Linked DNA regions of Homo sapiens: all the other regions are linked to region 1. Evidence: fine-mapped expression QTL. A gene starts in region 1. Each other region holds a variant in brackets. All regions are shown on one strand. Distances are between the middles of the regions. Region 1 holds the start of TBX19 (T-box transcription factor 19). Region 2 overlaps SFT2D2 (SFT2 domain containing 2). Region 3 has its middle 3.5 kb from the start of SFT2D2. Region 4 overlaps SFT2D2 (SFT2 domain containing 2).

The links.
Region 2: its variant is fine-mapped to the expression of TBX19 in whole blood (INTERVAL, PIP 0.98).
Region 3: its variant is fine-mapped to the expression of TBX19 in whole blood (TOPMed, PIP above 0.99).
Region 4: its variant is fine-mapped to the expression of TBX19 in whole blood (TOPMed, PIP above 0.99).

Annotation. Positions count from the first base shown.
Region 1 is chr1:168,278,151-168,283,301 of GRCh38, forward strand. TBX19 (T-box transcription factor 19) reads left to right here and starts at 2,727. Exons shown (of 8, transcript NM_005149.3): 1 at 2,727-3,143. The coding sequence starts at 2,941.
Region 2 is chr1:168,248,284-168,253,434 of GRCh38, forward strand. SFT2D2 (SFT2 domain containing 2) reads left to right here. Exons shown (of 8, transcript NM_199344.3): 8 at 1-4,738. Among named protein-coding and RNA genes, the nearest start is that of SFT2D2, 25 kb to the left of the region's middle. The variant A/G (reference allele first, on the strand shown) is at 2,531.
Region 3 is chr1:168,219,967-168,225,117 of GRCh38, forward strand. No RefSeq gene overlaps it. Among named protein-coding and RNA genes, the nearest start is that of SFT2D2, 3.5 kb to the right of the region's middle. The variant G/A (reference allele first, on the strand shown) is at 3,242.
Region 4 is chr1:168,240,393-168,245,543 of GRCh38, forward strand. It overlaps SFT2D2 (SFT2 domain containing 2), which reads left to right. Exons shown (of 8, transcript NM_199344.3): 8 at 2,109-5,151. The coding sequence ends at 2,148. Among named protein-coding and RNA genes, the nearest start is that of SFT2D2, 17 kb to the left of the region's middle. The variant C/G (reference allele first, on the strand shown) is at 2,402.

The DNA of each region.
Region 1 (5,151 bases):
GATTTATGGGGGAAATTTCTCACAGGTCAAGGCTTGCTTTTATTTTAGGGACACAGTTTAATGTATGCCAGATTATATTCCCCCACTTTGCATTGGCTGCTTGGAAGCTCAGAGCCACAATTGTGTCACAGTTCTAAGCAGCGCCTTCTCAAAATCTCCACTTATATACCTAATAGTCTTTGCATTAGTCTCCTATTGCTGCTGTACCAAATTACCACAAACTTAGTGGTTTAAAACAACATAAACCTATTATCTTACAGTTTGGGGAATCAGAAGCCCAAAATTAGTTTCACTGGACTAAAGCCAAGGTGTCAGCAGGACTATGTTCCTTCTGGAGGCTTTAGAGGATAATCTATTTCCTTATCTTTCCCAGCTTCTAGAGACTTCTTACATTCCGTGTCTTCTGGCCCCTTTTTCCATCTTCAAAGCCAGGAGTGTAGCATCTTCTCTCCCCTCTGACTTCTGCATCTGTCCTTACATCTTCTTCCTCTGACTTTGATCCTCCTGCCTCCCTCTTATTTTTGCGATTGCACTGGGCTCACCAGATAACCCAGGTTAATCTCCCCATCTCAAGACCCTTAACTGAATCACATTTGAAAAGTCCCTTTTTCCCATGTGAGGTAATACACTCACAGGTTCTGGGGATTCGGAAATGGGTCTCTTTTGCAGGGGGTCCTTATTCAGCCTGCCACATTCTTTTCAGTGTTAGCTGTATGAAACTGAAATGTTTGAGTCTCCTAACCAAACTGTACCTCTGCCTACCCTTCCACCTCCCTCACCTTCCATATCTCAGTAAATGGCCCTGCCATCTAATAATTGTTCTGATCAGGCACATGGTTCTCTGCTCTCCCTCACCCCCATATCCAGTCTCTCATGTTGTTCTGTCATATAGACTTCTAAAGTGTATCTAGAACCTGTACACTTCATTTTTTGGCCACTGCCACTACCCTAGGCTAAGCCATCACCAGCTCTTGCCTGAATTGCTGTCATAGCCTCTAATTTGTTCTTTACTTCAGCTCTTGCCCTTTCCTAGTCTATTCTTCACAAATCGATTAGATTTTTTGCAAACACAAAGCCAATCATGCTGTTTTCCTACTTAATACTCTCCAATTGTTTCCTATCTCATGCTGAAGAACATTCAAATTCTTCATCATGACTTCTAAGGCCTCATGGTCTGGCCTGGCCCTCTCTCAAAGAACATCTCATTCTGCTCTCTTTACCACCACATTCTGGTCACACTGGCCTCCCTGGAGATTTCTACCTGGCTCAAGCCATGCTTCTCACATGTAATTCTTCTGCTTGGCACTCTGCCAACTCTTCCCCGACTACATCTTTGCTGAGCTTTTGGTCTCATCTGAAATGTCTCCTCCTCAAAGAAGCTGTTCTATACAACTCCATCTAACTGGAGTTCCCTACCCTGCTGTGCACAAATTTTTCTTGATCACTTCACCCTTTTAAGTAGCCTTCATAGACTTATCACTATTGATAATTACTTAGTTGTTGTTTACTTTATATCATTTATTTTCTCCATCATATTGTTAATTCTGTAAAGGCGCAGGCCATTTCTGTTTGTTCCTTGCTGTATGTGATGCTTCATAGGTATGTAGCATAGGAGATCCTGAATACATTTTCTGTCATCCTTACCCTGACTTTATCTTACCTTTTTGGGTTTGTTTTCCTTATGTTCTTGTTTTCTTACTTTGTATTGAAATGAGAGAAAAACTCACAACCCCCAGGCTCTACTCAAGGTTGGGGGCCAGAGGAGGTAGAGCTTCCTCTGCTCCTGTCTCTTCCACCCGCCATCCACTCACTCGCCATTAGTACTGTGTGTTGTGGGCAAAAGAAAAGCTTTCTACTAGTGTTTCTTCCCAGGGAATGTGGGATTCATCCTGGAATGCCAAAATAAGGATGAATTGTCTAAAGAGAAAACCAGAATGCCTTTCTGGACCAAAGATTGAAATTGCTCTGCCTAATAATGTAAACAGTTTATTTTCACTGACTGGGGGCAGAGTGTTCCTTAGCGAGATTAATATGATACTAGCTGCTTTTTTGTCTTCCTCTGGCAAAGGCTAGAGATAACAAAAATTGGGGTTCTAGACTCTAGGGAGGAAGGACAACATTCACAGCTCCATTTGTAGGAGGTGAGGAGGGCCCTTGAGAAAAGTGGGGTGTGAGCGAGTATAGGACATTCAGGAGAGAGATGATCAGTAGGGGACACCCTGGGAGAAAGAGATTCTGAGCTCTTTTCTTTTCTCCGGAGCCCTGACCCTTGAGCAGTGGCACACAGAGTGTCTTCCTTTATTCTCTGGTACAGTAGTCATGTTTCTTGGCACAGTGCCTTGGACCTTCCATACATGCTTTCTTCCCTCCAGAGCCTTCGTCTAAGATGCTGGAGAGTAGCTTATAGCCTGGGCATCAAGTTTGTCGATTCTCCCCAGGACCCTTTTCTTTATAGGTGCCACATGTCATGATTTATGCACAAACATGATTTGCCTGACAGTGCAGTCTGGGCCTGGAATAATTTTAATTAATGGGAAAATGGTCCTCAATACACCGATTAGACCTCTTCAGGTACAACAAGATAAAAGCCTGATAATTTGGATGGAGTACTCTTCTTAAATATCTACTCTGTGCACGGCAGCCAATGGGAAAGCCAGGCTCTCTCCCACCTGATCCAATGAGTAATTAAGAGAGGGCTTTTTCTTCCCTACCTCTCCCCTGCCTCCACCCCGCTCCCCAACTAAAGCTTAACAGGTTGGTGGCATAATGTGGAGACTTTTAAGGGGTGTCATCCTAGGAGCTTAGGCAAGAGCCAGGGTATCTTCTCTCCGCTCCCCAAGCACTGTTCAAGTGGGTTTGAAAAGCAGGCAAGTGAGGGAAGGAAGAAGCTAGAAGCAGGCAAGTTGGGTAACGGCTCTCGGCAAAGTTCGAGAAGTGCCTATGGCCATGAGTGAGCTGGGCACTCGGAAGCCCAGCGATGGCACTGTTTCTCATCTGCTCAATGTGGTGGAGAGTGAGCTTCAGGCAGGGAGGGAAAAAGGCGACCCTACGGAGAAGCAACTTCAGATCATCCTGGAGGATGCACCTCTCTGGCAGAGATTCAAGGAAGTCACTAATGAGATGATTGTGACCAAGAATGGCAGGTGAGTTTATCTGCCGCCCCGCGTGGGCTGGCAGGGCTTGGCAGGAGAGATGAGACCCCTTGAATATTGAAGAGGCTGCCGCTCTTCACTCAGAGGCGGCGGGATCTGATTAAACATGCTTACAGGAACGACTGTCTCCAATGGCTTTCCTCCAGCCAACTTAATTAATTTATCTGAGATCATCAGAGGATGAAGCCACCTGTCTTATGTGCATTTTAAATGGAGAAATTCTGGGGAAATTACCATAAAGTGGGGGGCATGCCCCATTGGGATGGGAAAATGGACTTAAATGTCAGAAAATAATATTAATTTGTGACTAGCTGCATACCCTATCGCAGACCTGAGCCCCAACTCCGTCCAGATAAGGTGAAAGACAACTTTATTTGGAAGCTGGATGATCTCCTCCTAAGTATAGCAAACTTGCCAGAAATGTTTGGCTAGTTGAAGATTGGAAGCAAAAGGGCAAATGTAAACTCATTGCCTATCACTTCATCTGCTTCCCCGTGTGTGTTTGTGGTGAGTGTTCATTTGAGATTGTGTGTGTTTGTGATGATATGAAAGCTGTTGCAGTAATAGTGGATGAAAACATATTATTCTGCTTTAGAGAAAAGAAGATGCCTTCTTTCTTATCAGTGCAACAAATTTAGGGATTAACTGAAACTGATCTCTGGTGGCATTTCTCAGATTCTATTAAACCTAGTCTGCTAAGGGGCTGTCCAGGTAATATTAGAAGATTTCACTTCGTAGAGGAGACGCAAATATTTTGAAACAAAATCTCACCGCTCGCAGCTTGGCCAAACTGGCTCCAACATTCAGCTGGTGTTCACATAGCTTTTCATACACATGGTCACAAAAGTACAAAATGCTGAAAGGCATTTTCAGTAGGCTTAGTTTTGGCTGAACTCTAATTATGACACCCTCGAGAGAATTCTGATAAAAGAGAAGAGCCGAGGCCATCTGAACTTCTTTCTGTCAGGCTTTTGTCCTTGTGCAAAGTGCTTCCGTTCCTGATGTCTCGGTTTTCTATATTTTAATAAAGCACAGTATAGAAAATGAACTATTTCTTGTCAATCTTGAAGAGTTATGAACTCGAGAGCTGTTACATGGCATTAAAATGCTTTCTAAAATGAAAGCCATACCTGAATTAGGGCATTTCAAGAAATTGCGATTATACCAGTAGCAGGAATATCAACCTTGCTTGATTTTTATATTTTCTTTCTCAAAATGGGTTCCACACTTATTTCATATAGATTTATTGCTTTTAATATTGTTACTGTAATTATAGTTCCTTCTCTTGACCTGTATTTACACATTATTTTTAGCTTCTTTCATAGAAGAAAACATAAAACATAGTTTTAATTTCACAGAATTACACCAAATTCTTAATTGGATTTAGTCTCTGACCCTTTAAAAATGGGCAAAGATGCAACTGTAAAAATTTTATTATATCTGATTATAGGTAGAACATTCTGCTTATTTTTCTTTGTATTATTGGATACTAATTACAGTAATACCTAGCCTTATGCTATTGATTGGGCTGTCAAATTGGCCATTTATTAAAGTAAAAATAAGTACAATTACCAAGTCAATATATGGTTCATCTATTTCAATAAGGAATAAATAATAAAAGTTTCTGAAACCATGATAAATTCCAATTTAATAATATGTTACATTGGAATGTACTTTTACCATTTAAGAAAAGTTTTATCTTGCCTTTTTATTGCCTATGTAATTTTCCCCTATATTTAAAATGTAATATTCTTCACATCAGCCCAGTGTGGTGGTGTGCTCCTGTTGTCCCAGCTACGCAGGAGGCTGAGGCAAGGGGTCCTTGAGCCCGGGATCAGTCTGGGCAACACGGTGAGACCCTGTCTTTAAAAAGCAAAATGAAATCCTTCATCTTTAACGTCATTTAATATTAGCTACATGAACAATATTCTTTGTAGAAAAAGTCTGATTGCGGTGAACTTGGCTGTTCTTATCTATGGATGTCCTGCTGTGTTTGCCG
Region 2 (5,151 bases), 30 kb before region 1:
AGGGTTTTTATGGTTTTGGGTCTTACGTTTAAGACTTCCTCTTTTCCTAATTGAATACCCTTTATTTCTTTCTCTTGCCTGATTGCCCTGGCCAGAACTTCCAGTACTATGTTGAGTAGGAATGGTGAGAGAGGGCATCCTTGTCTTGTGCTGGTTTTCCAAGGGAATGCCTCTAGTTTTTGCCCATTCAGTATGATATTGGCTGTGGGTTTGTCATAAATAGCTCTTCTTATTTTGAGATGCGTTCCATCAATACCTGGTTTATTGAGAGTTTTTAGCATGAAGGGCTGTTGAATTTTGTTGAATGCCTTTTCTGCATCTATTGAGTTAGGGAGGATTCCCTCTTTTTCTATTGTTTGGAATAGTTTCAGAAGGAATGGTACCAGCTCCCTTTTGTACCTCTGGTAGAATTCGGCTGTGAATCCATCTGGTCCTGGACTTTTTATGGTTGGTAGGCTATTAATTACTGCCTCAATTTCAGAACTTGTTATTGGTCTATTCAGGAACTCGACTTCTTCCTGGTTTAGTCTTGGGAGGGTGTATATGTCCAGGAATTTATCCATTTCTTCTAGATTTTCTACTTTATTTGCGTAGAGTTGTTTATAGTATTCTCTAATGGTAGTTTGTATTTCTGTGGTATCGGTGGTGATATCCCCTGTATCATTTTTTATTGCATTTATTTGATTCTTCTCTCTTTTCTTCTTTATTAGTCTGGCTAGCAGTCTATCTATTTTGTTGATCTTTTCAAAAAACCAGCTCCTGGATTCATTGTTTTTTTCGTGGTCTCTATCTCCTTCAGTCCTGCTCTAATCTTAGTTATTTCTTGTCTTCTGCTAGCTTTTGAATTTGTTTGCTCTTGCTTCTCTAGGTCTTTTAATTGTGATGTTAGGGTGTTGATTTTAGATCTTTCCTGCTTTCTCTTGTGGGCATTTAGTGCTATAAATTTCCCTCTACACACTGCTTTAATTTTGAAATGGAGTTTTGCTCAGTTTCCCAGGCTAGAGTGCGGTGGCATGATCTCAGCTCACTGCAACCTCTGCCTTCTGGGTTCAAGTGATTCTTGTGCCTCAGCCTCCCAAGAAACTGGGACTACAGGCATGTGCCACCACACCCGGCTAATTTTTGTATTTTTAGTAGAAACAGGGTTTCACCATGTTGGCCAGGCTGGTCTCGAACTCCTGACCTCAAGTGATCCTCCTGCCTCGGCCTCCCAAAGTGCTGGGATTACAGGCGTGAGCCACCATGCCCAGCCCCATGTCCTTTTTAATGCCTGGATTGACTTTGTGGGACATGAGGCCAAGGTACCTTTTAAGATGTCACCTGTATAGCATACTAGTAGTGAATGTAGGCTTTGAAGTCAGATGCATCTGGCTGTGAGCTGTGACTAGTCATATACTAGTTGTGTCATTTTGAACAGGTTACCTAACCTCTGGCTCCTCAGTTTGTTCATCTGTTTAAAAATTGTGGGAATAACAGTTCCTGCTGGGTCATTGCAAGATGTCAGTGAGACGTGTCAAGTGCTTAGAATAGGGCTTGGCATAAGTAGAGTCTCAGTAGGGTAGGTGTTATTTAATCCCAGAAATAACTGACAACTTTGGAAGATGAGAGTGAATGTCTCCGATCATTAATTTATTTAACAAATACTTATCTAGTACTATGTGCCCGGCGCTGTAGACACTGCCATGTTTTATCTCATTCAATATTCACAGTGACTGCCCAGTGAATGGTATTGCCTCCATCCTCTGAGAAGGTAAAGAGCCTATCCCAGACCCCACGAGTGGAGGCGTCAGGGAGGGGTTCTTGGCAGGAGATGGGTCTTGTAGAAAGGCTTCTGCTTTGCTTTCACTCACGGCCTGTGGCCAGTTTGCTCAGACAGCTCCCATCAGGACACCATTGGCAGCTTTTGCATGACCCTGCCTCCCAGGGTCTTCCTGCGTTTTTCCTTAAGTTGCCTTATTCTTTGGTTGTTTCCCTACTTGTTTTTGTTAGACTGTGGGAGGAAGAAATCCATTTCAAATCTGCTGAAACCTGTTACCAAGCAACAGCAGTGATTAAAAGCAACCTGATGAGTGAGTAAAGAATTAGGGTTTCAGACCTGTAGTTAATGATGGTCTCTGTCTCCCTGCTGCCCTGCATTCCCTTCCCTTCCGTTCACTGCTGGGTGAAGGAGGGCTTGCTGCATTTTGGAAGTTAAGGGAACCAATAAGGTGACTCTTTTGCAGATTGGAATATGGTGCTCAGCCAGCCATATGGAAGCACTGTCCTGGCGTGATCTGCCCTGGGCTGTTGGCTCTCTGAGTGCTGTCTTGGGAGGAGCACTGCCCTTCAGAACAGAAGAGATGGCTTCCAGTCCCCTCTCCCCCTTCTCCCAGTCTCTCTGAGGCTGCTTGTTGGGTATTGGGCGTGCTGTGTACTAACTCACTCCCGTCTCTTGTCTCATTATCTGAAATGCATCCCCTTTTGCAGAAAGGGCTCAAACGGAGCCTTCAGTTCTGCTCCTCTGCATAGCCGTAGCTCAGATCCTAGCTCA[A/G]GATGTCTTGTCTGGGAAGGGCAAAACATGGTCCCCAGTGTAGCATTTTCACTGGGTTGATTATCTCAGTGGTGGATCATCTATCACCCTTGTGTGGTGACTTTGTGAATTATCTGCCTGAGTGCCACTTCCCTTCCACCCTAATCACTGCAGGCTCAGGGAGCAAGAAATAAAATCATGAAATGCATTCCAAATAAAATTACCTTTTGGCTGGGTGCAGTGGCTCACACCTGTAATCTGAGCACTTTGGGAGGCTGAGGTGGGTGGATCGCTTGAGGTCAGGAGTTCAAGACCAGCCTGGCCAACATGGCAAAACCCCATCTCTACAAAAAATACAACAGCAAAAAAATCAGCCAGGCTAGCTGGTGTGCGCCTATAATCCCAGCTACTTGGGAGGGAGGCTGAGGCACAAGAATTGCTTGAACCCAGGAGGTGGAAGTTCAGTGAGCCGAGATCGCACCCCTGCACTCCAGCCTGAGCAACAGAGTGAGACTCTGTCTCAAAAATAAATAAAAAAAAAAATCACTTTTTGATACTTCTGTTAAAATAGATAATAAGGAACCATATCTTAAAGTGTGGAGGATCTGGCTTGGCTTCTGTTTTTGATAGCTCTATGAAAGTGACAGATTTGCATCATGAGACTTAGTGGAATGAATTGGGAAATTGAAGGGCAGCCCAGTGGCTATGGATTCTATTTTCTATGGGACTGTCTACGCCAGGCTTTATTTTCTCTTTGCTCAGATAACTTCTGACTAGAGTCGACGGTAGGATTATAAATGGTTTAAAATACGTATTCTCAAACCTCATTTTCAGCATATAAATTTTTAAGAATCAGTGTTTAAAGGTACGTGAAACCATTTGCTAGATTTTTGTCCTAGTTTTTTTTTTTTAATTTAAAAATCTTAAGTTTTTTTTAGTAAGCTTAAGATGTCCAGTAGTTTATTTGCAGACAGCATTTTTAAAAAGTGAATAGATGTTTAACTGAAGTTAAATACAAATTTATGTCTGTGTAACTCTTGGTAAGATATAACAAAACCTAGACATCTAAATTTTTTGGAAATTTTTATTTTAAAAGTTTGTTGGGAGGTAAAATTGTGTGACTTTACCTTCTGGTTAATAGTTTTATAGTTAAGAAGAAAGTCCAGCGAAGTTTACTTGATCTCAGTTGCACTCAAGAATAGGGGATTTAGTTCCACTTTGGTTATTTTCACTTCTACCCTAAATTCATAGTCCCTGATACTTAAGCTTTACCCTTGGCTTACCAGTTTTCATTGCAGCGAGTAAATGGGGAGTAGCAGAGCCTTTGTTAATGTAAATTGACAAAAAGTATGTCCTTTTCTAGCAGGAGCAGATAAACTGATAATGGTCTTAGAAATGTAGAAAATGATTTTTTGTAGACAGGATGATCTGTCTAGATTGTAGCAAATGATGGTACATATTCACAACAAAGTTGTGCCACTACATTTAATAAACAGCCACAAACAACAAAAGGACAACTGGTCCCCGATATAAATGGACTAGCTACCTGGACATAATATCCTTGTGAGGCATCCTTAAAGGACAAATTGCAGCTGGTATTTGGGTGAATGTTGTTGCTCTGTGCCTGTTGAATGTCCATGCTACAAGAAGTTATGAGCCTTGTTCTAAGTACAGATGAACCTTGTATTTGTGTAATCTCCCAAGGGAGAGCTATGGTTTACATTCAATTTTTTGGTCTTTCTGCTATGAAACGTGTTTATTTTGCCTCTGTCAATGTGTTTGCAACCTTAAGTAAGGAAAGGGAAAAAAAAAATAGCCCTCTGAACTCTGATCTTTTGCCGCTTCTGTAGATTTTGATTGTGAAGTTGGGAGTGAGGACATTCAAAAGCCCATGGTGAATGCATATGCCTTTAGAATATTGTGCCTGTTTTAAAATGTTTGAGCTTTTAAAATACGTTGTTAAAACATGAATCCATTTTTGTAATTGTATAAATACTCATAACTAATTTTGAATGCTACTGATTGTGTAACTGAATTTTTGTATCCAAAAATACATTCTTGAGTACTACTTTTCCTACCTTGAAAATCTATTTCATTTACTAAATATTGTTTTCTTTATGCTAACTTAACTTTAAAAGGAATGTTGCCAAGCTGTCTCTCCTCCCCCATCACAATTGTTAGTTTTTTTTGCTTTCTTTCTTCAATAAATGATAGCATTATGATCTTTAATAAATCTAGTGTTGTCTCTTACTCATGTCTGTATTTCCAGGAGTCTTTAAGCCAAAGGAAGACTGTAGAACTGTAAGAAAAAACCGTATCTTTAATTTGAATTCTCAGTGTGTAGCACACATTATAGGCACTTAAAGATGTTTTGGGGGACCTAACCTGACATGTAGTCCTCTCTTTTAAATGACTTAGGGTTTCACATGGGTCTAGGGACAGTTTGGAAGGTTTTTAAAAAGTAAGACATTTCCTTAAGTGTTTATTTTGGAAAAAAAATACACACACACATACATACATACATACATACATACAAACAAATAAATATATATATTTTTGAGATGGAGTCTCACTCTGCTGCCCAGGCTGGAATGCAGTGGTGTGTTCTTGGCTCACTGCAACCTCGGCCTCCCAGGTTCAAG
Region 3 (5,151 bases), 58 kb before region 1:
TGTGGGGATTGCAGCTGTGGTCAAAAGGGGCTTAATCTTGCTGGAGACTTCTGCAGAACCTTGTGGAACGTGCCCCAGAGTGTCCCATTTATAGTCGCATCTCGTTGGTTGGGGTTTGGCTCCAGGTTGATGGCTGGATCCCCCTTCCCAATACTGAAACAGCTCTGATGACTGGAGTGTTCGAACACCAGGGTCCTTAGTCTCGCACCAATTTTGATAAAACAACATGGACACACGTGGAGTAGTTTTAAGGAGTGAAAAGTTCAACAGTCAAGAAAGATGGAAGGAAGGAGAAAACAGCTTCCCTGTACAGAGACAGAGGGAGGGGGGATTTCTCTCTGTAAGCCATTTTCTGCTATCCTCCCCGCGCTCCCCCCCGAAACCCCCACCCCTACACACACACACACACACACACACACACACACACACACACACACACACGGCAGGGCGTGAGGAGAGAAACGACTGTCTGTTTTCACACTGCTATAAAGAACCTCCTGAGACTGGGTAATTTTTGAAGAAAAAAGGCTTAATTGTAATTTACTTACAGTTCTGCACAGTTAGGGAGGCCTCAGGAAACTTACAATCATGATGGAAAGTGAACGGGAACCAAGGACCTTCTTCACATGGTGTCAGGGAGAAAGAGTGAAGGAGAAACTGCCACACACTTTTAAACCATCAGATCTCATGAGAACTCACTATCGTGAGAACAGTGTAAGGGAAACCACCCACGTGATGCAATCACCACCCACTAGGCCCTTCCCCTGACACGTGGGGATTATAATTCCAGATGACATTTGGGTGGGGACACAGAGCCAAAGCATATCAAACTTCATGTCTATTGCTGGTACACGGGGATTCATGTCTATTGCTGGTACACGGGCAAGCAGGTATGAGGTGGGGCATCAGAGCCCTCCTTACAACATTCATGTATTGCAAAGTTACTTCCCTGCAGTGATGACTGGGAGAGTCTTATTATCTGCAATTCTGAACACTCCTGGATTTAAATGGTTTCTTTCATCCCTGTCTATACAACAGTTCGTTTATCAGCCAGCTATATTGTAATTGATAAAGAAGCCATGGGGCCATGAGAATACTGACATCAAACAGTTACTTTTCAGCTTCCTTTCCTACCTTTAAATGGTCATGCCTCTCCCTCAAAGGGACTTTGGAAAAATCATTTAAACTCTTACTCCACCACTAAAATCAGGTGAACACACAAAGCAATCTAGGGCTTGGAGCGATACATAAGGCTGGTGGTGTGTATCTGAATGTTTTTCTCTAAACCTGGGGTTTTCAACCAAGGGCCCATAGTCATGGCAGAACGCCTGGCATATATGACACTGCTGGTAGTGTGGGCCACTTTTCCCCACAGGGGCAGGTGGGGAGAGGCTCCATGACAATCATACTCTCAAAAGGGTCTGTGATGCCAAAATAGAACAAGAGGCACTGTCCTGATTGGTTCAGCTAGGGTTTCTACTTCATTTATTTACTTCATGTGGAAGACTGAAGAAAAGGCAAGAATACCCACTGGAAGTAGAGGGGAGGCCTGGCTGCCCCTACAAATATCCACAGAATGGCACAACCCTAAGTGTCCTTCAAAGATCTGTCTCTTGGCTTCACGGCTTCAAGGTCTGAATTGTGACCATTCAGAAGACTGACATCTTCCTGGGAGCAGCAGATTTTATAATGGAGAAGCCTTCTTGGTATGTAAGAAATCAAAATAAAAGAATACGCTGGATGCGGTGGCTCATGCCCGTAATCCCAGCACTTTGGGAGGCCGAGGTGGGCGGATCACCTGAGGTCAGGAGTTCAAGACCAGCCTGGCCAACATATAGTGAAACCCCGTCTCTATTAAAAAAATACAAAAATTAGCTGGGTGTTGTAGTGCACACCTGTAGTTCCAGCTACTTGGGAAGCTGAGGCAGGAGAATCGCTTGAAGCTGGGAGGTGGAGGTTGGAGTGAGCCGAGATCGTGCCACTGCACTCCAGCCTGGGTGACAGAATGAGACTCCATCTCAAAAAAAAAAAAAAAGGAAGAAAGTTCAGGATTTGCATGGTGGCCTAGGCTCTTACAATTGTGATAAGGATAAACCTGCTTCATGTGGGACTCAGACACCAGAACTATGTCTGACCTGTGCTGTGCTTAAATGGGCTTTGCCAACACTGCCTTAGGAGTCTCCTTTTCCTAGCCCCTAGGATTAACCAGTTTGAGGAATGGCCTTCCTTTCCTTCTCCTTTTCCTATTCTAGATACATTAAGGTATTCAATCATGATTTTCTAAGGGCTTTTTCTTAATAACCAAGTAGGAATATGTCCACCCTGATGAATTCTGTGTTAATTTCATGCATTAATAATGCTCAGAGAACTGCCTTACTTCCTATTCCTTGGAAGCTAACTCCTTAGAGCTTCCTTGCACACACACTTCTAAGAGACTTTGTAAGAACTTTTTTTGTGTTTAGCTTTTGCTGAGAGGAGGGTGAAATTTAATAGAGCGCACATAAAATTTCATCTAAAGCTTCCTGTTTGTTCATCCTGGCAAAACAGAGGTACAGAAAGGCTGTGAGGGAGTACATCACTCAGCCTTGAGGACTTGTTTGCATCTGCATTGCACAGTGGGGAATGAGAATGTGACCAGTGACTAGAGTAGGTTATTTATTTATTCATTTATTTGAGACGGAGTTTCGCTCTTGTTGCCCAGGCTGGAGGGCAATGGGGCGATCTCGGCTCACTGCAACTCTGCCTCCCAGGTTCAAGTGATTCTCCTGCCTCAGCCTCCAGAGTATCTGGGATTATAGGCGACTGCCACCATGCCCGGCTAATTTTTTTGTATTTTTAGTAGAGACAGGGTTTCACCATGTTGGACAGGCTGGTCTCAAACTCCTGACCTCCTGATCCACCTGCCTCAGCCTCCCAAACTGCTGGGATTACAGGCATGAGCCACCGCGCCTGGCCAATGACTAGAGTAGGTTACTATTTATTTAGCACCTACTATACGTTCCAGGCACTGTGCTTGGCACTGGGGATGGAAAGACAAATAAGATCTATGCCCCATAGGGACCCTAATGTGAACAAATGGAGCATATTGTGCTAAGTGTTATGGTGGAGGTAAGAATAAGGTGACTTGAGAGAACTGTGTGTTAGGGGAAGGGAAAGGGACAAGGATGGAAAAGAGTAGGTGTTTTCCAGGACAAGGTAGGGAACACAATGAGTTCAGGAACTACAGTCTCCTATGCCTGGA[G/A]CCTGGAGTATGTGAGAGAAAGGAGAGAGATGAACCCAAAGAGGAAGGTATGTGTTGCTGAGAAGTCAGCAGCAATTTATCTGTAGGTGGTAGGGAACATGGGCATTAGTTTCCTGCAGCTGCTGTTACATATCAGAAATTTGGTGGCAACAGAAATGGATTCTCTCACAGTTCTGGAGGCCAGAAATGCTGAAAACAAGCTATTGGCAGGACTATGCTCCCTCTGGAGGCTCTAGGGGAGAATCCTTTCCTTGCCTCTTCCAGCTTCTAGTGGCTACTGGCATTCCTTGGCTTGTGGCTGCATCACTCCCATCTCTGCCTCTGTGGTCACAGTGCCTTCTCCTCTTCTGTTGGTGTCAAATCTCCCTCTGCTTCCCTCTTATAAGGATATACATGATTGCATTTATGGCTCACCTGGATAATTGTGCATAATCTATTTTAAGATCCTTAATTACCTGCACAAAATACCACCCCCACTCCACTTTTCACTGTCTAAGGTAACATGTACACTTTCCAGAGATTAGGACATGGGTATCTTTTGGGGAACATTTTTCAGTTTACCACACTGTGGGAGATGTTAAGCAGGGCAACAAATGAGTCAGACTTATGTTTACAAAGATCCTTCAAGGGATGGTGTGGCACAGTCAGAAAAAACCTTCTGAAGACATTGATTAAACCTTCCTCATTCTTCTGTGTTTAATGACTACTTAGTATTCTTGTGAATGAATGTACCATAATTTATTTAAGCACTTCCCTCATTTATGAACTTTTAAGTTGTTTCCAATTTTTTTCTATTACAAACAATGCTACAATGAATCACCTTGTAATGGGCCAATTGCACAATGTGCAAATATAAATGTAGGTAAATCAGGAGCCCATATTCTGGGTTCAGACTCAGACACATTGGAGAAAGATAAGAGTGGATGCCTGTTACATTTTACAATAGATAATATTAATGGATTGTGAAATATATACTGAGCACTGTTCTAAGCATTTTTGAAATGGCTTTATTGCAATAGAATTCATATGCCATACAGTTAATTCAAAGCATACAATTCAATGGTTTTTAGTATGTTCAGAGCTGTGCATGCAACCATTACCACAATCTAATTCCAGAACATTTAAATCACCCCATTAGTCTCTTACTACCATTTCCCCTCCTCCATCCCTAGGCAACCATTAGTCTACTTTCTGTTTCTATGGGTTTGCCTATTCTGGACATTTCCTATAAATGAAATCATACAATATATGGTCTATTGTGTCTAGCTTCTGTGAAAGGGAAATATCTTGGGCCCCCCCAAATTACTAAAGGGAAAATTCAAGCTGGGAACTGCTTAGAACAAATCTGCCTCTCATTCTATTCAAAGTTATCACTGTGTTCACTGAGATAAATGCACATCTGATTGCCTCCTTTGGAAAGGCTAATCAAAAACTCAAAGGAGTGCAACCATTTGTCTCTCACCTATCTGTGACTTGGAAGCCCCCTCCCCCCTTGAGTCTTCCTGCCTTTGCTTCGAGTTGTCCCGCCTTTCCAAACACAACCAATGTACTTCTTACACATATTGACGGATGCCTCATGTCTCCCTAAAATGTATAACACCAAGCTATGCCCCAACGACCTTGGGCACATGTCGTCAGGACTTCCTGAGTCTGTGTCACAGGTGCTGTTCCTCAACCTTGGCAAAATAAACTTCCTGGTTAACTGAGACCTGTCTCAAATTTTCGGGCTCCACACTTCTTTCACTTAATACAATGTTTTCGAGGTTCATCCACGTTGTAGCATGTGTCAGTACTCCATTCTTTTTTATTGCATGGGTATGTCACATTTTATTTACCATTAATCAGTTGGTGGCCATTTGTATTGTTTCCACTCTGTTGCCCAAGCTAGAGTGCAGTGGCTTACTGTACTG
Region 4 (5,151 bases), 38 kb before region 1:
ACTCCATGCAGACCTGGCTGGTTTTGGGGCCTGGTGGCTTGTCTGAGAAGAATATGGGCAGGGATGTCCTGGGAAGCTAGATTTTTATGTGAAGTAAACCGGAGTTCATCATTACTGAGGATCCAATGAGATATTGATCAACCTGCCAACATATGAATATTTTTTGGTCCCTGAACCAGCTGCATAGTTTTCAGGGCCCAGTGCAAAATAAAAATGTGAGCTTCTTGTTCAAAAATCATAGGCCGGGCACGGTAGCTCAGCCTATAATCCCAGCACATTGGGAGGCTGAGGTGTGCGGATCACGAGGTCAGGAGTTCAAGACCAGCTTGACCAACGTGGTGAACTCCTGTCTTTACTAAAAATACCAAAATTAACCGAGCGTGGTGGCGTGCACCTGTAATCCCAGCTACTCAGGAGGCTGAGGCAGTAGAATCGCTTGAACCTGGGAGGCGGAGGTTGCACTGAGCCGAGATCACGCCATTGCCCTCCAGCCTGGGCAACAGAGGGAGACTCTGTCTCAAAAAAAAAGATTAAGAATTTCAAGATGGCAACATCAAATCAAGGCATTAAACCCAATGTGGACCCTTCTGAGTATGGGGCCAATGCAGTTGCACAGGTCTCATTCGTGAAACTTGCTTGGAGTCATTTGTCAGAGCTTCAGTCTTGATCTGGATTGGCATGTATAAAATTTATGTACAAGTGATTGATAGAATGAGGGAATTTTATTTGAGATAGTGAGTTTCATGTGCTGAGGAGACGAATTACTCCTCTAGTAGGGAGGGAATCACAGAGCTAGATCCCACCCTTCTATTCTTTTTTTTTTTTTTTTTTTTGAGATGGAGTCTCACTCTATGGCCCAGGCTGGAGTGCAGTGGCCCGATGTCAGCTCACCTCAGTCTCCAACCTCCTGGCTTCAAGCTGTTCTCCTGCCTCAGCCTCCATGTGCACGCCACCATGCCAGGCTCATTTTTTGTATTTTTAGTAGAGATGGGGTTTCACCGTGTTGGCCAGGCTGGTCTCGAACTCCTGACCTCAAGTGATTGGCCCACCTCGGCCTCCCAAAGTGCTGGGTTTACAGGTCCGAACCACCATGCCTGGCCCCACCCTTCTATTTGTAAGTTCCCCTGGAATAGCTTTTCCCACAGTGTTCCACAGAAATAGTGTTTCTGTGGAAGAAAAGAGTTCTATGATCAAGTAAGTTTGAGAAACAGGTTAAGCAAAATTAGGTAGGTTCCTCTTTGCCTGGCTTGCTAGATCCTTCCATATGCTATGTGTATTGTGAGCTGCCATGAGGGGGACTTATGTGGCCATAAAACCCTTCTTGTGCAGAGACTCTTCTGAGACTACAGTGCAGAGTATATCTCAAGAAATGCTGCCCTGGAACCATCTTGATATTAAAATGCAGTGCCTACTCATGGAAATGCATCCATTCACCTCTCCCTCCCTTATGTGACTCCCAATGTCCTTAGTGCAGCACAGTTGAGAACGTGGAACAGAGCTGGGGTATGAGAAGCCTAGTGCCACATTGCACAGTGTGGTGTGGTGGTGGAAATGGAAGTGCTTGCTTGGGTAGAATAGTAATTTCTTGAAGACCAACTCTTCCTTGCACCCTCTACACTGAATTCCAAGCAGTAAATACCTGTGATAAGGCCATTATAGCATATTAATAAGTGCTCAGGACCCATAGTGAGCTCCCTTCTGCTGCCTGCTTAGAATGAAGAAAGGTCCCAGTTAATATTTGATTTAATGCTGTCAGTGCATTCTGTGATTTTGACCGATATTAAAGTGCAGCAATCCTGACTGATTTCTTAGTTTCTGACAGTCTATGTTATCTTTTTCTCTGATTATGATGGCTAATCCCATAATCAGACTGTCGGGTAAGTGGGGACATCCCCTCTTACAGATGAGGAATTTGAAACTCAAACAGGACAAGGAACTTTCCCAGGATAGTACTACTAATAAATGTTGAAGCTGCAGTTTGATGCTGTGAAGGTCTGATCTTTCAGTCTAGGTGCTTTCTACTCTGCAGCTTCCACTCTGGGTGCCCTCTAAAGGAGTGCCTTTGGGGTGATGACGTTCCACTCATCTTTGTGTCTTTTCTTTCCTAGGGATGCTGTGAAGAAGTGTTTTGCCGTGTGTCTTGCATAATTCATGGCCAGTTTTATGAAGCTTTGGAAGGCACTATGGACAGAAGCTGGTGGACAGTTTTGTAACTATCTTCGAAACCTCTGTCTTACAGACATGTGCCTTTTATCTTGCAGCAATGTGTTGCTTGTGATTCGAACATTTGAGGGTTACTTTTGGAAGCAACAATACATTCTCGAACCTGAATGTCAGTAGCACAGGATGAGAAGTGGGTTCTGTATCTTGTGGAGTGGAATCTTCCTCATGTACCTGTTTC[C/G]TCTCTGGATGTTGTCCCACTGAATTCCCATGAATACAAACCTATTCAGCAACAGCACATAAGCCTTGGGTGCAAGTGATTCCCAGGTGGCAAAAGGCAGCCCCATCAGAGATCACGGGAGCAACAGTAAGGGACAGAGTTTTGGGGTCCACTTGTCCCTCAGCATGGAAGCCATCACCGTGGTCCTGCATAGAGTGAGTCTGCTTCTACTCTGGCATCTGAGAACAAGTGACTCTGCTTTAGACAAGCCCCTGGAGAGCCTGGCCATGGAGTGAGGTAGAAAAGAAGCACTTTTTGGTGGTATATGCTGTTTCTGAATTTGAATCTAAGCATTCTTGGTGTTCTGATTCTGCGCCTGACTGTGGAATGTATTTTCTGACATTAGGTGCAGACTCTTTTTCTCTTGGGTTTTATTTCCCATCCCTCCCTCCCTCTCCCTGCATATCTTTCTTTATGACCTCCTGGCACTAGATGGGGAAAGAACAGAGCAGCAGCAGAAAATGCTGCTGTTTTTTTTTTGGACGAGAGCCCATAGGAGTTGAAAAATCCTGCTGCTCTCAGCTATATTTTTTTCTCCATTATTTATAAATGTTTGCTTTTAAACTGATTTTATTTTCCATTCTCCCCTGGAGTTGGGCCAGGGGAGAGTGGGGTGGGAAGACAGATCCCTGCTGTGCAGCCAGCAGGAAGTAGGCACGCCTGCCCAGTGACCTTTAAATAGTCCCAGTGTTTGCACTTAGCCTGTGCTGGGGACACTGGGGATAAACTGCAGGTGGTCTCATGTCAGCCTGATGCCTAACCTACAAAGTGCTTTTGTGTCCACGATCTTACCTGGTTCTTATGGAGAGCCTTGTGAGGAAGCAGGGATTGTTATACCACTGTGCAGTCAAGGGAATCAAGGCCCACACTGGTTTTTGGATCCACCCAAAGCCACAGCTTCAGCCTCCTTCATGACCCCAGAGTTTCCTGGCCTGTTTCTGGTTGTGCCTCCTGTAACTGCCTGTGACTGTTTCCCTCGTTTTCATCAGCCAAGCCATCTCCTCCCTGGCCCTCCCTGCCCATCTCTTTTGGAAGCTTCTTCCTGGATCTGCAGGATGTTCACTGTCCCTTGTGTTCCCTTTCAGCTCCTCCTTGTTGCCTGACTACGATTAGTGCCCTGTCTTGTCAGCCAGCATTCCTGGCCCTCCAGGACCTCCAGAGTCATCCTACAAATGACGTTTATCTGGATTGCCTTTCTGTTCTTTGCACAGGGCCAACTGGTCCACTAGGGCTCCTCCTCTGTCACTGCTAAACCAAAGGAAGTGGCCTGCTGGTTGTCCCCTTTCTTGTGGCTAATTGCTGAACCTTTCTTTGTCCTACTGTGGCTAAGAACTCTGACTGGTTTTTTTTTTTTTTTCTTTTTGAGATGGAGTCTCACTCCGTCGCCCAGGCTGGAGTGCAGTGGCGTGATCTCTGCTCACTGCAACCTCCACCTCCCGGGTTCAAGCAATTCTCCTGCCTCAGCCTTCCAAGTAGCTGGGATTACAGGTGCCCGCCACCACGCCCGTGCTAATTTTTGTGTTTTTAGTGGAGACAGGGTTTCACCATGTTGGCCAAGCTGGTCTGGAACTCCTGACCTCAGGTAATCCGCCCACCTTGACCTCCCAAAGTGCTGGGATTACAGGTGTGAGCCACTGTGCCCTGCTGATCTTTTCTTCTGAGGCTGGGGAGGTGTGAACAAGCCTGACGGGGCCAGAGAGAGGAGCTAGTCTTCCCAGGTTCTTTCTAGGCTATTGATGACATCCAGTCATCTGCTCAGGTCACTAACCTGTCCTCAGCCAGGAAAGGAAATTTTATGCTACCCCTCTGGCTTTTGTGGGATTCTTTCACATCCCAGGTGCCTCTTGGAGACAGATCTCAGAAGGGCTGTGGTGTCAGAAGGGACATGGAGGAGGTCAGGAGGGCTCATGGTTCCTTTTCTTTAGAACTGATACGAGGCTTGGCTAGTCACTGTGAGCTCCAGCAGCTCCAGCAGCCTGGAATAAGACACCTAGAAGGCTCATCCCTCCATGTCCATGTCCTTTTTTTTTTTTTAGATTGAACAACCATGCTTTGTTTAAAAAATAATCTCAGCAAACTAGGGATACAAGAGAATTTCCTCAACCTGTCGAAGGGCATCTTTAAAATATCTACTGCTAACATCCTATGTAATGATGAAAGGCTGAATGTTTTCCCCTAAGATTGAGAATAAGACAGAGATGTCAACTCTTACCACTTCTATTCAACGTTGTACTGAAAATTCTAGCCACTGCAATCATGTTTTAATTGGGAGTAGGGGGAAAGAGGGAGGGAAGGAGAAAAATGAAAGGCCTTTAGATTGAAAAGAAATGAGTAAAACTGTCTATTCACAGATATTATCATCTATGTAGAAAACCAAATCAAATCCATTACTAAGTTACTGAAACCAGCAAGTGAGTTTCGCAACACAGCAGGATATATAATTGATATACACAAATCAATTGTGTTTCTCCATGTTAGAAGTAAAGAATTAGGAATTGAAAATTTAAAAATAATACCATTTACAATAGCATTAAAATATAAAATTCTTGGGAATAAACCCGACAAACTATGTGGATTATCTGTACACTGATAACTAAAAAGCATTGCTAAGAAAAATTAAGACCTAAGTAAATATCTTGTTGATAGGTTGAGAGACTCAACATTGTTGATGTTAATTCTTTCCCATATTAATCTATAGATATAATGCAGTC